2 separate regions of the Homo sapiens genome follow, and region 2 is linked to region 1. The links come from fine-mapping of genetic effects on gene expression. Tissue or cell type: monocytes after triphosphate RNA. Region 1 holds a variant in brackets; the other region holds the start of a gene. All regions are shown on one strand. Distances are from middle to middle.

The links. PIP is the estimated chance that this variant, and not a neighbour inherited with it, causes the effect.
Region 2: PPIG starts here. The variant in region 1 is fine-mapped to the expression of PPIG in monocytes after triphosphate RNA (Kim-Hellmuth 2017, PIP 0.95).

Annotation. Positions count from the first base shown.
Region 1 is chr2:169,515,187-169,523,293 of GRCh38, reverse strand. It overlaps KLHL41 (kelch like family member 41), which reads right to left. Exons shown (of 6, transcript NM_006063.3): 4 at 4,919-5,104; 5 at 2,287-2,433. Among named protein-coding and RNA genes, the nearest start is that of KLHL41, 9.5 kb to the right of the region's middle. The variant CACACACACAG/G (reference allele first, on the strand shown) is at 3,132.
Region 2 is chr2:169,579,460-169,587,552 of GRCh38, reverse strand. PPIG (peptidylprolyl isomerase G) reads right to left here and starts at 3,202. Exons shown (of 14, transcript NM_004792.3): 1 at 3,063-3,202. RefSeq lists an enhancer at 3,237-3,286.

The sequences.
Region 1 (8,107 bases):
CAGGCAACTTTGGGAACCACTGCTCTAATCGCAAAATAAACCACAATCAGAGAGGATCCCTCTTTTAGGTTCCCTAAACAATGTCAGGGCCACTTTTATAGCAGGAGATTCTGTACTTTCTTTTGCTGCCTGTAACTGTTCCCTGCAGGGGCAGCATGGCTTTTGATAACCCTTAGGAACCAGGAGGGCTTCAGGGAGGTCCCACTGATTGACAGCACAATTACTTAATATCAGTGTTTCTCAACCCTGGCTGCTGATTAGAATCATCTGGGGCTGGGCTCGGTGGCTGACGCCTGTAATCCCAGCACTGTGGGAGGCTGAGGTGGGTGGATCACCTGAGGTCAGGAGTTCAAGACCAGCCTGGCCAATATGGTGAAACCCCATCTCTACTAAAAATACAAAAATTAGCCGGGCATGGTGGTGCACACCTGTAGTCCCAGCTGCTCCAGAGCCTGAGGCAGGAGAATCGCTTGAACCCAGGAGCTGGAGGTTGCAATGAGCCAAGATCACATCACTGCACTACAGCCTGGGTGACAGAGTGAGACTCTGTCTCACCAAAAAAAAAAAAAAAAAAAAAAAAAAAAAAAATCACTGGGAAGGTTTTAGGAACTAGGGATGCTCAACTCTACCTCCAGAAATTTTGATATAATTGGTCTGTGTTAAGGCCCAGACACTGGTATATTTTAAAAGCATCCCAGATGATTGTAACATACAGCTAGGGTTGAGAATCACTGCCCATTTATATATTTGGTACCTGGCCCTGTTTTCCAAAAAACCCTAACCTTCCCGGCCTTCATTAGTTCATCCTTTTTTCCTACTGCTTCCAGCTTTTCCCCATCTCACTGTTTTGCTAATTCTAGCCTCTTTGCTCCGTGGAAATCTCATTTTTTTTCTCTTTCTCCCTCTTTTTTGGGGGGAGGAGGGAAAGTAGTTAATTTCCTTGCATAGCCACTTTTTTTCTTGCCCTCTACACAGCTAGTTAATATTACAACATGGGGAAATGATGTCTAATGCACAAATCATTGTTTGGTTAAGGTACCAGCTTTTCAGCCTTTTTAGTTCAGCATCTGGGAATAAAGCATCTGCTGGTTAAGGTATAGAACAAATAATACCCACTTTTCACTCTCAGGCTTAGTGGTATGCCTTCACTGATTAAGTATAAATGGCACTCTTCCAAAGCTGTACTTATAAACTTAAATGTGCAAACAATTCACCTAAGAATCTTGTTAAAAAATACAGATTCTCATTCAGTAGGGTCTGGGATTCTGTGTTTCTTTTTTCTTTTTTTTTTTTTCTTTTAAGACTCGCTCTGTAGCTGAGGCTGGAGTGCAGTGGCGCGATCTCAGTTCAAAATAAAATAAAAACAAACTTTTTTTTTAATAGCCTCACTAAAATGTTCAATTGAGTAACAGTTTCAAGTGTCATACTTAGGAGAACTGCCTGGCACCTCCAGGCAGGTAAAATGGATTGCTATTTTGACTTTTTTCATTTTAAAAAAGCATTTATTAGCTGAAGCCTAAAACAATTGGAAAGCTGTTTAAATTAGATTGAAAACAGAACTAATGAAGTAGTGGAAAGCTCAAGAGGTTAAATGTTTCTTTAGGCTGGGTACGTGGCTCACGCCTGTAATCCTAGCACTTTGGGAGATTGAGGCGGGTGGATCACCTGAGGTCAGGAGTTCGAGACCAGCCTGGCCAACATGGCGAAATGCCGTCTCTACTAAAAATATAAAAATTAGCTGGGCGTGGTGGATATGCCTGTAATCCCAGCTACTCGGGAGGCTGAGGCAGGAGAATCACTTGAACCTGGGAGGCCGAGGTTGCAGTGAGCTGAGATCCCGCCATTGTACTCCAGCCTGGGTGACAGAAACTCTGTCTCAAAAAAATAAAAATAAAAAAGTAAAAAACATAAAATTTTTTTTAGAACTCTGTTTTGTTAGGAAATAAACTACTCTGGAGCAAAGAGGCTTTCACTCTACTGGATGCCTATAGCATTATACTCTTAGAGCTGGAATGAAACTGAGAGTATCAAAGGTCCAACTCTCATTTTACAGTAAGAAACAGGCCTGCCCAGATGATTTCTTTCTCAGGCTCAGAGCTAACTAGAAGTAGATACTTGTTCAAGTAAGTGGCATGTACAGAAGTTCAATTAGGTTTGAAGTGTTTAGTCTACTACCAAGAAGTAGCTTGCATGTTGGGAAAATCTGGCTTATTGTTTACTACAAAATAGTTTATCAGTCATCTGATTTAATATGTGATTCTGAAAATTGAAGTGATGAGAACTTACTTCCATATGTCATTGACTTCAGTGGGTGCAAATTCTTTAGACTCCAGTTGAATCATAGCAAAACCACCAATTGCATACAGAGATCCAGCCAGGCTGACCAAACTGATGGAGCTTCTTTCTTGGGGAAATTCGGTCATTACATCCCATCTAGGTATCATTAAAAATATAGTCAATGTAAAACTTAAAGAAATGCCAGATGTACTTACTGAATAATTATAGGAAATAATAATTTAAAAATTCAAGTAGTGGCCAGGCAGCCAGGCGCGGTGGCTCATGCCGGTAATCCCAGCACTTTGGGAGGCTGAGACGGGTAGATCACCTGAGGTCAGGAGTTTGAGACCAGCCTGACCAACATGGTGAAACCCCACCTCTACCAAAAATACAAAAAATTAGCCAGGCACGGTGGCGCGCACTTGTAATTTCAGCTATTTGGGAGGCTGTGGCAGGAGAATCACTTGAACCTGGGAGGCGGAGGTTGCAGTGAGCTGAGATTGTGCAACTGTACTCCAGCCTGGGCAACAGAGCGAGACTCCATCTAAATAAAAAATAAATATTCAAGTAGCGGCTGGGTTCGGTGGCTCATGCCCGTAATCCCAGCACTTTGGGAGACTGAGGCAGGAGGATTGCTTGAGCCCAAGGAGTATGCGACCAGCCTGGGCAACAAAATGGACTGCCTCCACACACACACACACACATACACACACACACACACACACACACACACACACACACTGAGGCAGGAGGATAGCTTGAGCCCAAGGAGTATGAGACCAGCCTGGGCAACAAAATGGACTGTCTACACACACACACACACACACACACACACACACACACACACACACACA[CACACACACAG/G]AGCTAGGCCTGGTGGTATGTCCCTATAGTCCCAGCTACTTGGGAGGATCTCTTGAGCCCTTGAGGTCAAGGCTGCGGTGAGCTATGATCGCATTGCTGCATTCCAGCCTGGGTGATAGAGCAAAACCCTGTCTTTAAGGGGGGAAAAAAAAATTCAAGGAGCACAGGCATCTAAAAGTAAATGACTAAGTTTGCTACTAGAAAATATTTGAAAGATGTAACTTCATTAAATATAAAGCCTTCAATATGGCAACCCTAAGGCCGGGCACGGTGGCTCATGCCTGTAATCCTAGCACTTTGGCAGGCCTAGGTGGGTGGATCACCTGAGGTAAGGAGTTCGAGACCAGCCTGACCAACATGGTGAAACCCCATCTCTACTAAAAATACAAAAAATTAGCCGATTTTTTTCTAATTATAAAAATAATATATGTACATTATAGAAAATCTGTACTCCAGCCTGTGTGACACAGTGAGACCCTGTCTCAAAAAAAAAAAAAAAAAGTTTGAGAAAATCTGGAAAGTACAGAAAGGTATACAAGAGAGCAGATATCTCCATAATCATACCTTACAGACATAATCACAAGCAACAATTTGGTGTAATTTTGTCATCTTTTTAAAAAGCATGTACATTTAAGCTTCCATACATATAAATGAAACTAAGAAGATATTTACAATTTTTGTGTGTTGCTTCTTAACTTACATCATGAGTGTTTACCCACATTACAGTCTTCGAAAACATTATTTTTAATGATAATTTAAATAGTGTTCCACAAAAGTTCCTTGTAATTTTCAGATACTAAAGTCTGTTTTGTAGTCAGGCATACATGTTTCTAAAAAAAGTAATAATATTTCTCTTTTTTCTTCATTGCTAAACTAGGAATATAAAAGGTACATACTCATCCAGATGTGTGAGCTCAAAAATTTTAAAAAGACCAATTTTATATGAAGAATAGCTGTCAAATATCTTTTCACATTAAGTCAATAAAAGCTTAAAAATGAAATTTTTAATAAAATTATAAACAGCGTAAAGGAATGAAAACTTGGGAAGCATTCATACTTTACAGATATCAATCATTAACAAGTTAAGTGAAGATCTTTTCATAAAGAAACTACATTTAAAATCAAATGATTCCACAGAGACATGTATATCCATCTACACAGACAATTATTCAGGGCCAGGTGTGCTGGCTCACACCTATAATCCTAGCACTTTGGGAGGCCACCGTGAGAGGATCATTTGAGGCCAGGAGTTAGAGACCAGTATGGACAACATAGTGAGACCCTGTCTGTACCAAAAACAAAAACAAAAACAAAAATTAGCTGGGCATAGTGGTAGTCCTAGCTACTCAGGAGCCTGAGGTGAGAGGATCACCTGAGCCCAGGAGTTTGAGGCAGCAGTGAGCTATGATTGTGCCACTGCACTCCAGCCTGGGTGACAGAGCCAGACCTTGTCTCTTAAAAATAATCATAATTATTCACAAGTATTACCTTTGCATTTCTAAATTCACAAAGTTAATAACAAGGACAAATAGAGCATGACAACACTGACTTAAGGGTCATGTGTTCCAGATTACAGACATATAATGCATCAGAATGTTAGACAAGATTTACATCCAGTAACAACAAAAGAAACCCAGATGAAAATACTTCCTTTGTAATCTGTGGCTCTGTACCCTCCCCTCCCCACATCCTAATTAGAAAGATAACTTTTTATCCAAAGTTAACAATTAAAATGTATAGTTGTTCACATGCTATATACTAAGATGTGGCAACTCACTTATTTGTTGTAAGGTCAAAAGCTTCAACTGAAGCTGAAAGACCATCTTCAGTGACACCTCCTGCAATCACAATTTTGCCTTTATGGACTGCTACTCCAAACATGGAACGAGGAATTTTCATTGGAGCCAGATCTTTCCAATCTCCTTTTTTGGGGTTGAAGATAAACACCCTGTTTGTACATTTTCTGTAAACAGAAAAACAAATGTTCCTTTTAGAACCTTTTTTTGACAGCACCTTCACTAATAATTTGGCTTTGCTTGTCATGAAAAATATATAGTAGGATCAGAAAACTCCAAAGAATTCTTAATTTGAACATATGCCACTAAACAAAGGACAAGCCCAAATGTGGGGACCAAAACTATAACTTAATTTTACTGTTGGAAGATAGGGTACCTTTACTTCTGGATAGCTGCTTAGAACCCCAGGCACAGCTGATTTTAATCGTATCTACTAAATTCAATTGAAGTTTTTTTACTCTATTTGAGTAAAAAATAAAATCATAAACCTTTTATTGCACCTCAATAACAAATGGTAAGTTTATTTATTATCTGAATATCCTAGGAACGAATCAGTTAACTTAAAGAATAATTAGGTGCAAATATACCTACTTTAAATTTTATATGATAGATCATTTTATTTTATATTAGCACTAACATACCAGTGCATTTTAAGAAATCTGGGACTATGGATTAGACAACAAATCATCTGAGCTGATGAATCATGACAACAGTTTTACATGCTAAATGCTACCAGAAAGACCTGGACTCATCTGAATTATTATTCACTCTGCCACCCAGGCTGGAGTGCAGTGGTGCGATCTTGGCTCACCGCAACCTCCGCATCCAGGGCTCAAGTGATCCTCCCATCTCAACTTCCCAGGTAGCTGGGAACACAGGCATGTGCCATCACACCCAGCTAGTTTTTTGTATGCTTGGTAGAGACAGGGTTTCGCCATGTTGGCCAGGCTGGTCTCGAATTCCTGAGCTCAAGTGATCCTCCAGCCTCAGCCTCCCAAAGTGCTGGGATTACAGGTGTGAGCCACCATGCCCCGCCCTTAGTATGTTTTTTATGGTTCCTTGAAGTTATCTATAATTTGATGGGAGTTCAGAATTTCAAATAATAATTGATTAACTGGATATATTTGGTGATGAAAAACACCTTAACTTTTTTGTGAGGACAATTTTTTTCTTAATTGTGTAAAAGACCAGTTATCTGGAGTAGAAGCATTTCCTCTAATATTTGACTATTGGTATCATTTGAACACTTCTTGATAAGAACATTATCCAAAATCACGTTCTTCAAATTCATTAGTGGGAACTGGTGCAATTCAGCACTTACTTTTATTTATTTATTTATTTCTGGAGACGGAGTTTCGCTCTTGTTGCCCAGGCTGGAGTGCAGTGGCGCGATATCAGCTCACTGTCTCCCGGGTTCAAGTGATTCTCCTGCCTCAGCCTCCCTAGTAGCTGGGATTACAGGCAAACGGCACCACGCCCGGTTAATTTTGTATTTTTAGTAGAGACGGGGTTTCTCCACGTTGGACAGGCTGGTCTCAAATTCCCGACCTCAGGTGATCCACCTGCCTCGGTCTCCCAAAGTGCTGGGATTACAGGCATGAGCCACTGCACCCAGCCCAGCACTTACTTTTAGATAATGACTCATTTCAAAGTTCTTGACTTTGACATTTGTCAAGCAGTGTTGTGTTAGTTAATCATATTCTCAAGATTGATATATTCCTACTGACAAGAACTGTATGCTTCTTACTGACATATCAATTTCCTAGTTACTAATGCTGCTTGAAGGAAACAATTTAAATCATTTGGCAGGGTTCCTGTGTTTCCAAAGTCAGAATGCTCTTTAGTAGTGATTTTCCATTCAGTTTACTCAGGAAAAATGCCCAAAATAAGATCTGGCACCAGGTAAGCATATAATATACCTTCCTTTAAATTTGATAGGAATAGCTGGGATTAGGGAGGATATAAAAATTTTAGAATATGTTATCTTTGAATACAGGTAGATGTTTAAAAACCATTGCTTTTTAAAATCGCCTTTTCTGTGCTATATTTACCATTTAAATTGACTAATACCCAATAATCATTAACTCCAGAATAGAGTTCTTGACATCTAACACATTTCTATATTTTACTCTCCTTTCCTGCTTTGCCCTTACAATTCTAAATTTTGGCTCCCTTTTCAGGGTTGGACATCACTATTAATTCAATGGCCTGGGCAAATGATGACAAGCCAAATCAGGCAGATTTTTCAGGGGCAGAATATTAGTTCTCACCATCTAAACTGAAAATGCTTATTTTACTAGACAGGTTATACTGGTTTGACTGTCTCTGAAGCATTCGGAGCTCACTTCTCCTCTCTCTGGGTTATAACATCTCTTTCCTGATTACAGGTTCCTTAAGAATTGACTGGAAATCAAGTTAGGTTTATATATGAAACCTCATCCTGGTTTTCTCACAAGATACTGGGTGCTACTGGGAGCTCAGTTTTGAACAGTTGGAAGCCATTTTGAATATTACCTCTGTCAGGGAGTAAATATGTGGAAGAACACTGCTGAGGAAATAATTGCCTTAATTTTTTGTTTTTATTTTGTCTTTTTTACTTCCCTCTTTTCAATCACCACGCTTTTCTTTCAAACTGACCTATCTAAAGTCCCTCTTATGAATGTAAAGTACAAATCCATGATATTTTTTATGCACAGTTGTCTTAGAAGATATATTTTAAATACTACATTAAAGATACCTTTCAATTTTTATCTACTTATGGCTAAATGAATAAGAAAACCCATTGGTTTTAATGTAGTAAAATACAATTATAAATCAGTGAAATACAGGACTTGATTATGCTCCTAGATACTGCCTGGACTGTAAGGATGCTTATGATTGGGGTATTAGGCTCATTCCTAGCAGTATGCTGAGTATCTACATGTTTACTTCAGCGACTTGAAATTTTAAGATTTTCCCTCCACAATATGATAGGTGAGAACCATGTCCCATTTTAGTGTGCAGATCCAAAGGAAAAGAGGAAGAGACCGGGCGTGGTGGCTCACACCTATAATCCTAGCACTTTGGGAGGCTGAAGCGGGCAGATCACCTGAGGTCGGGAGTTCAAGACCAGCCTGACCAACATGGAGAAACCCTGTCTCTACTAAAAATACAAAATTAGCCAGGCGTGG
Region 2 (8,093 bases), 64 kb before region 1:
TAAAAGCAAAAAGGTCTGGGCACGGTGGCTCACGCCTGTAATACTAGCACTTTGGGAGGCCAAGGTGGGCAGATCATGAGGTCAGGAGTTTGGGACCAGCCTAACCAACATGGTGAAACCCCATCTCTATAAAAAATACAAAAATCAGCTGGGTGTGGTGGCACATGCCTGTAATCCCAGCTACTCAGGAAGCTGAGGCAGAAGAATTGCTTGAACCCGGGAGGCGGAGGTTGCAGTGAGCCGAGATCACGCCACTGCACTCCAGTATGGGCAAGACAGCGAGACTCTGTCTCAAAAAAAAAAGCAAAAGTCAGGCTGGGCACAGTGCACAGTGGCTCACGCCTGTAATCCCAGCACTTTGGGAGGCGGAGGCGGATGGATTACTTGAGGTCAGGAATTTGAGACCAGCGTAGCCAACATGGTGAAACCCCTTCTCTACTAAAAATATAAAAATTACCCGGTGTGGTGGCAGGCACCTGTACTCCCAGCTACTAGGGAGGCTGAGGCGTGAGAATCCCTTGAGCTCAGGAGGTGGAGGTTGCAGTGAGCTGAGATCATGCCACTGCACTCCAGCCTGGGCGACAGAGCAAGACTCTGTCTGAAAAAAATAAATAAATAAAAGCAAAAAGCATGCAATGCCACAATGCAACAGAAAGACTTGCAACAAACTCTTCAGGTCACTTGCATTAATTATCTATGTATTCCTTCATGACATCTTAGTACACTGGGATTCTAAAAATAGACAACATGTTATAATTATGTTTAAATACTCTATTTATAAACTAATAGGAAGGAAAAAAGCCTAACTAAAGGGGCAACTACTATTTAAAGAATTAACCCCAGATAGTGTCCTAACAGAAGTACTTTATTATGAATGGCTTCCACTTTCCCTTTGTATAAAGAAGAGGATGCTGCCTCACAGAAAATCTAATTTAAGGCAAAATATCAAAAATATGTAGAAGTCACCAATACTGCAAGACCACAATAATAAGCACCACAGTAAATCGACTATATGGTTAAAAATAAATGTAATGAACACTCTTCACCCATAAAGGAACCACTGAGTTAATGAAAGCCAACTTCACACACAATTTTAACAAAGCTGAGTATTTAATTTTCAAGCCCACAGTTGATGGAAGGTGGAGATCAAAATGTCATTTTGCAGGTAGGTGAAGAAACTGAAGCTCAGAAAGATAATTGGGCCAGAAAGTCCAAATTTTTCTAACCTAAGAAGTTTACATACTTATACACTCCTGACAGCAGGAGCACTCCTGACAACTGACTGCCTAGAAAAGCCTTAAAAAGGAAACCAACAATTCAAATGCGCAGAATCCTACTACAAGACCCTATAGGATCTCAGAGCATCAATAATTCTGAATCATAAAGAAATAGTCAAACAATGTACAATGAACTCTTGTTTAAGACACAGAACCATGTAATTTGTTACAGAAATAATTCTGTCCCAACTCGTTAACATAAAAAAAAGGGGAGTGCTAAAACGGGTAAATTTTCAGGATATATTAAAAACAGGAGAGAAGCAGCCATTCTAAATGTATCTTTTCTGGATTTTATAGCACGATTTCAAAATTTATAAAATGTTCACCCCCCCACCCGTCATTGTTACAAAGTAGCAATTACCGGCCATCCTGTTACCAAATGGGAATACACAAAGACAAAAACGTGTGTGTGACCGACACACACACACACTCACTCTTTTTTCCTGGTTTTAACTACTGAAAGTTAATATCAGGCCCCCCTAATTTCTAAAACATCTAATTGTTCTTTGGACAACTATGTTAGTACCAAACTATAAAAGCAAATACTTTTGTATTTGTGTTCACTACTGCAAAATGTTGGTTACACACAGAAAGGGCTATCGTGGAAAGAAATTAAAATCAATGCACAAAATGGTGCTTTTATAGCATTTCCAAAACGATTGTGCATACTCCTTGCCAGCACATCTAGACTTTGCTCCTTAAGACTAAACATGAGCTGGCCGTGCGCGGTGGCTCTCGCCTGTAATCCCAGCACTTTGGGAGGCCGAGGTGGGCGGATCACGAGGTCAGGAGATCGACCATCCTGGCTAACACGGTGAAAACCCGTCTCTACTAAAAACACAAAAAATTAGCCGGGCATGGTGGCACGTGCCTGTAGTCCCAGCTACTTGGGAGGCTGAGGCAGAAGAATCACTTGAACCCAGGAGGCGGAGGTTGCAGTGAGCCAAGATCGCGCCACTGCATTCCAGCCTAGGCGACAGAGCGAGACTCCGTCTCAAAAAAAAAGACTAACCAAGAACCAAATTAGCATACTTCCCCTTCAGGCATACTGAGCCCCGAAATCATCATCTTCCTCCTAAAGAGTAATTATCTCCTCCTAAAAGGCCTGCGCAGCTCACAGCTCCTCCGAAACACGGGGGAACTTCGCGAGAGCTCAAGACCCTGGACTTGAGTTTTAGAAAAATGCTTAACAAAGTGGCCTCTGCCACTTAACTGCACGACAGCCACTGTGCTGTGAGAGGAAAAGGTCGAAAGAGGAGGAAAGCTAGTCTTCAATTTTAATCCCTGTGATTCAGGCTCTTCGCCCGTCACTCTCCAACCCTAGCCTGACAGGACGTCAGGCTGTCTCCCCCTTCCCCACCAGTCCCGCCACCTACCCCGCAACAGTGCTGAGTCTTAGGATTTTGAAGCTTTAAAAATCAACCCGGCTCCCTAGAGTTCAGGCCGCAGTCGCTGCCGCCATGTTACAGCTTGTGCGGCAAAATGCGTCAGTGAGGGAGGTGTGCGCCTGAGTGGGGAGGGCGGGGGCTGGCAGAGGAAGGACCGTCCCCAGGCCCCGGGGCTCGACTGCAAGCCTTCTCCTTCTGCAACAGCGGCAAAGGCACTGCTGCGGTCCTCAGGGACTTCCTCTGGGCCCAAGCAGCCCCGATACCTCGAGGGAAAGACGGTAAACCCAACCCGGTCAGCCGCGCCGGCTCCGCCCCTCTTCCCAGGCCCTTCCCGCTTTCGTACGCAGGGACTGCTGAAATGACGCCGCCAGAACAACTTGAGCCTCATACCACTTACCTGCACCGGTAGAGTTTTCCTCTTCTCTGGGTCCGGTCCTTTGAAGCGCTTCAAATCTACCGCCGCCAGAAAAGGCGCTAAAGCCCGCTAACCGCCTCCCTCCCCCACAACTCAGTCCTGGCATGGAGAGACAGCGTCGCACCGGAAGCGCGTCAGGAGTGGGTTGTCAGCATCGGCCAGCGTTCACCTGCTTGCGTCACCACGCCCTCCTAGGACTTCTAGGATTTTGGTGCCTTTTAAATTCCTAGTTTATAGGTGGCCTAATGCTTTGTGGATGCGTTGACTGGGAACGCTTGTAACCGTTAAAATGCCATATCCTTTGTGAAGTAAAGTGCCTCATTTAATAAACATTTATTGATCTTACGCTAGGTTATCAGAAAGGAAGGCCTACCTTCATGGAGCTTCCAGTTAAGCTTCCACTTAACGCTAGGATATAAGTTCTAAAAACGCAGTAATGAGCAAAGTGTTATTTGAGGAAAGAGGAAGAAATTACAAAGAGCTTTGATGTTCTTTGTTGTTTTACAGATAAAGAAATTGAGGCTCAGGGAAGATAAACGCCTCCTCCTCAAACACACTGTTCTTGAATGCCAAAGCAAGTCTTTTGATGCCAAATCTAGTGCCTTCTAGAGAAAATATGGCATATATTATTTAATTATTTTAAGGGGCAAGGGTCCCCGGATTATGTTAGAAATAAATAACCATTGCTGTTTGGGCGGGGGGGTGGGGGGGGATGGGCAGTGATTCTGGTAGGGATGTGGGGTGTGTTTTAAAGGAACTAGCTAACTAGAGGACTTAAATTGTTCTGTCGTTTAAAGGCAACGTAAATTATGATCATTTAAATTTTTCACTCACTTGCATCAGGTAAATTAATTATCAACAACAGTTAGGCATGTGGTGGTGCTTCTAAGGGGCGTGACCAGTTTTACACAGCAGTAAAACAGAGGACATTTCTGCCTCTCCACCCCCACCTCTTTTAAGTCATTGCCCTTTATTGCAGGAGAGCAGCAGCATATTCATCTTTAGATAGTTCAGAGATTAAACGGATTTACACTTCGCTGTGTGTGGAGGGGACAATTCTGCAATACCTTAAAACAGGGGTCCCCAACCCCTGGGCCACAGACTGGCCTGGCTAATTTTTTGTATTTTTAGTAGAGACAGGGTTTCTCCATGTAGGTCAGGCTGGTCTCAAACTCCCAACCTCAGGTGATCCGTCCTCCTTGGCCTCCCAAAGTGCCGGGATTACAGGTGTGAGCCACCACGCCCGGCCAACGCTTTTCGAAAGAAGACATACTTGCAGCCAACAATCATAATGAAAAAGCTCAACACCACCAATCATCAGAAAAATGCAAATCAAAACCGCAGTGAGATACTATCTCATACCAGTCAGAATGGCTATTATTAAAAAGTCAAAAAATAACAGGTGCTGGTGAGGTTGTGGAGAAAAAGGAACATTTTACAGTGCTGGTGGGAGTTTAAATGAATTCAACTATTGTGGAAGACAGCGTGGCGATTCCTCAAAGACCTAGAGGCAGAAATACCATTTGACCCAGCAATCACATTACTGGGTATATACCCAAAGGAATATAAGTTGTTCTGTTATAAAGACATACACATATGTATGTTCATTGCCACACTATTCACAATAGCGAAGACATGGAGTCAACCTAAATGTCCATCAATGGTAGACTTGATAAAGAAAATGTGGTACATATACTCCATGGAATACTATGCAGCCATGAAAAAGAATGATCTCATGCCCTTCGCAGGAACATGGATGGAGCTGGAGACCATTATCCTTAGCAAACTAATGCAGAAACAGAAAACCAAGTACCACATGTTCTCACTTATAAGTGGGAGCTAAATGATGAGAACACATGAAGACATAGAGGGGCACAATACACACTGGGGCCTATCAGAGTGTAGACAGTGGGAGGAGGGAGAGGATCAGGAAAAATAACTAATGGGTCCTAGACTTAATACCTAGGTGATGAAATATTCTGTACAACAAACCCCCATTACACAAGTTTACCTCTGTAACAAACCTGCATATGTACCCCACAACTTAAATAAAAATAAATAAATGGAAGGATACTGTATGTATAGTGTATATAATAAACAACATTTGTTATCCTATAGTTTCCTTATATATATTTATATATATATTTATTATCCTAGTGTGTGTATGTATACATATACTATATATGTGTATATATACATATATATACACACACATATATGTACGTGTGTGTGTATATATGTGTATATATATATAAATAAGTGTTGTTTAAGCCACTAAGTTTTGGGATGATTTTGTCACACAGCAAGGGATAACTGACACAGAGAAGAAAGAATAGACTGATTATCACGGAACTTTTCACTTGTCTAATTCTACATAGCTTCATTTTTTTTCTTTTTTTCTAGAGACAGGGTCTCATTATGTTGCTCAGGATGGACTTGAACTCCTGGAGTCAAGCGATTCTCCCACCTTAGTCTCCAGAGTAGCTGGGACTACAGGTATGTACCACCTCACCCAGTGATGACCTCACATCATAAGGATCTGAGTTTCTGCCAGCCCGAATCATCAAATGCCAGAGAAGTATTTTACTAACATAGCAGTAACAGCTCCAAAATTTGTACTCCCACTTACATAGTAGGGGGTGTCACTGGAAAGTGTCTGTTCTGCTAAGAACTACATTTTTTAGCTGTCCCCTTGTATCTTAGTGGCTTGAAACAACATTTATTATCCCATAGGTAAGGATTTAAAAATGCTTTTTGGGGCCGGGCGTGGTGGCTCATGCCTGTAATCCCAGCACTTTTGGAGGCTGAGATGGGTGGATCACGAGGTCAGGAGTTTGAGACCAGCCTGGCCAAGATGGTGAAACTCCAGCTCTACTAAAAATACAAAAATTAGCCGGGCACAGTGGTGGGCACCTGTAATCCCAGCTACTTGGGAGGCTGAGGCAGGAGAATCGCTTGAACCCAGGAGGTGGAGGTTGCAGTGAGCCAAGATTGCACCACTGCACTCTAGCCTGGGTGACAGAGCAAGACTCCATGTCAAAATAAATAAAATAAAATAAAATAAAATAAAATATAAAATAAATAAAATATACTTTGTGTCAGTGGAAAGTGAGCGGACATCCAGGCCAAAATGTTTGTGAAGTGCTATGCCTTCTCCATTCCCTCTCTTCCTGTTTTGTCAGCTGAACCAGAATGTTTTAAGGCCCTGGGGAAGGGCCTATGGAAAAGGTCTACTTCCCTGAATCTCTGTTTGGAGAAAAGTCCTCTTCCACTGACTAGGGATATCCACATTGGAATGTGGTGTGACTGATAAATCAAATTATGTGGGTTAAATCACTGATGTTTGGCTTTATTTGTTACACCAGATACCACTACCAATCTAATAGGCTGTGAGCCTAAAGTATTAGATTTGGCCTAGCCTGGATCACTTCAGTCATTGTAGTATGAGGAATGGGATTTGATACCAGAAGAAGGGAGGTAGGTTGGCTGGGCTACTGCAATTAACCTTTACTTTACCTGTGACTTTTGCTTTAGAGTAATAAAACTTTTTGTTTCTACCCATAGATCAACAACAAACTGTTGTTTGTTCTATTAATAGTTGTCTACTGTATCACCAATAATATGTTTAGTTTTTTTTAAAAGCATGCCATTCTCTGATTGTGATGGATCAAGGAAAAAACCAGACACTTCCATAATCTTGTTTCAGACAAAAACAAGAACATTGTACAAACTGTAAAAACGACCAAACATCGGCCGGGCATGGTGGCTCACGCCTGTAATCCCAGCACTTTGGGAGGCCAAGTCAGGCGGATCACAAGGTCAGAAGATCAAGACCATCCTGGCTAACACGGTGAAACCCTGTCTCTACTAAAAATACAAAAAATTAGCCAGGTGTGGTGGCAGGCGCCTGTAGTCCCAGCTACTTGGGAGGCTGAGGCAGGAGAATGGTGTGAACCTGGGAGGTGGAGCTTGCATTGAGCTGAGATCGTGCCATTGCACTCCAGCCTGGGTGACAGAGTGAGACTCTGTCTCAAAAAAAAAAAAAAAAAAAAGACGAAATATCCATCTATCCTTGCTAATATGAATGGCTGCTGTTTCTTTATCAATTACAGCTTTAACCTCAGTTCATTCTTCCTGCCTTCTAGATCAAGATTATTAGAATAGAATTACCCTTGCTTACTCACAGCATCCAATCTAGAGAAACCACTCTAAAACTCTCCAAAATCACTTAACACAAGGCTAAAAAAAATTTTTTTTTTCGAGACAGAGTCTCGCTCTGTTGCCCAGGCTGGAGTGCAGTGGTGCAATCTTGGCTTATTGCAACCTCTGCCTCCCGGATTCAAGTGATCCTCCCACCTCAGCCTCCCAAGTAGCTGGGATTATAAGCATGTGCCTCCATGCTTGGCTAATTTTCGTATTTTTAGTAGAGATGGGGTTTCACCATGTTGGCCAAGGTGGTCTCGAACTCCTGACCTCAAGTGATCTGCCTGTCTCAGTCTCCCAAAGTGCTGGGATTATGGGTGTAAGCCACTGTGCCTGGCCAAGACTATATGCTATAATGACAACTTTCTAACACCTTCTTATGGAGACACCTCTTAGGGTACAGCCTACTTCATTGCAACCAGTCAATAAACCCAACTTTGTTTAACTATATGTGTTCCTGGTGTTTTTTGACTGGAAGGCAATGACTTGGATCATGCTGTTTCATCTCTATGTTTTTCTTACATTTGTTTGAAAACCCCTTCTATGCTGTGCATTCAGATTACCTTCATCTCAGATCTATTATCAGTTGATCTAGTTCCAAGCAACCCAAATCAGTGCTGTATAAAATTATTGTCTGGGATTAGTGGTTGTCTAAAGTATTGGAGGACAGGAGGGGGTGAGGGAGACATGGGGAGTGACTGCTAATGGTTACAGGGTTTCTTTTTGGAGTTATGAAAATGTTCTAAATGTGAGTGATAGCTTCTCAACTCTGTGAATATACTAAAAAGCCATTGAATTGTACACTTTAAA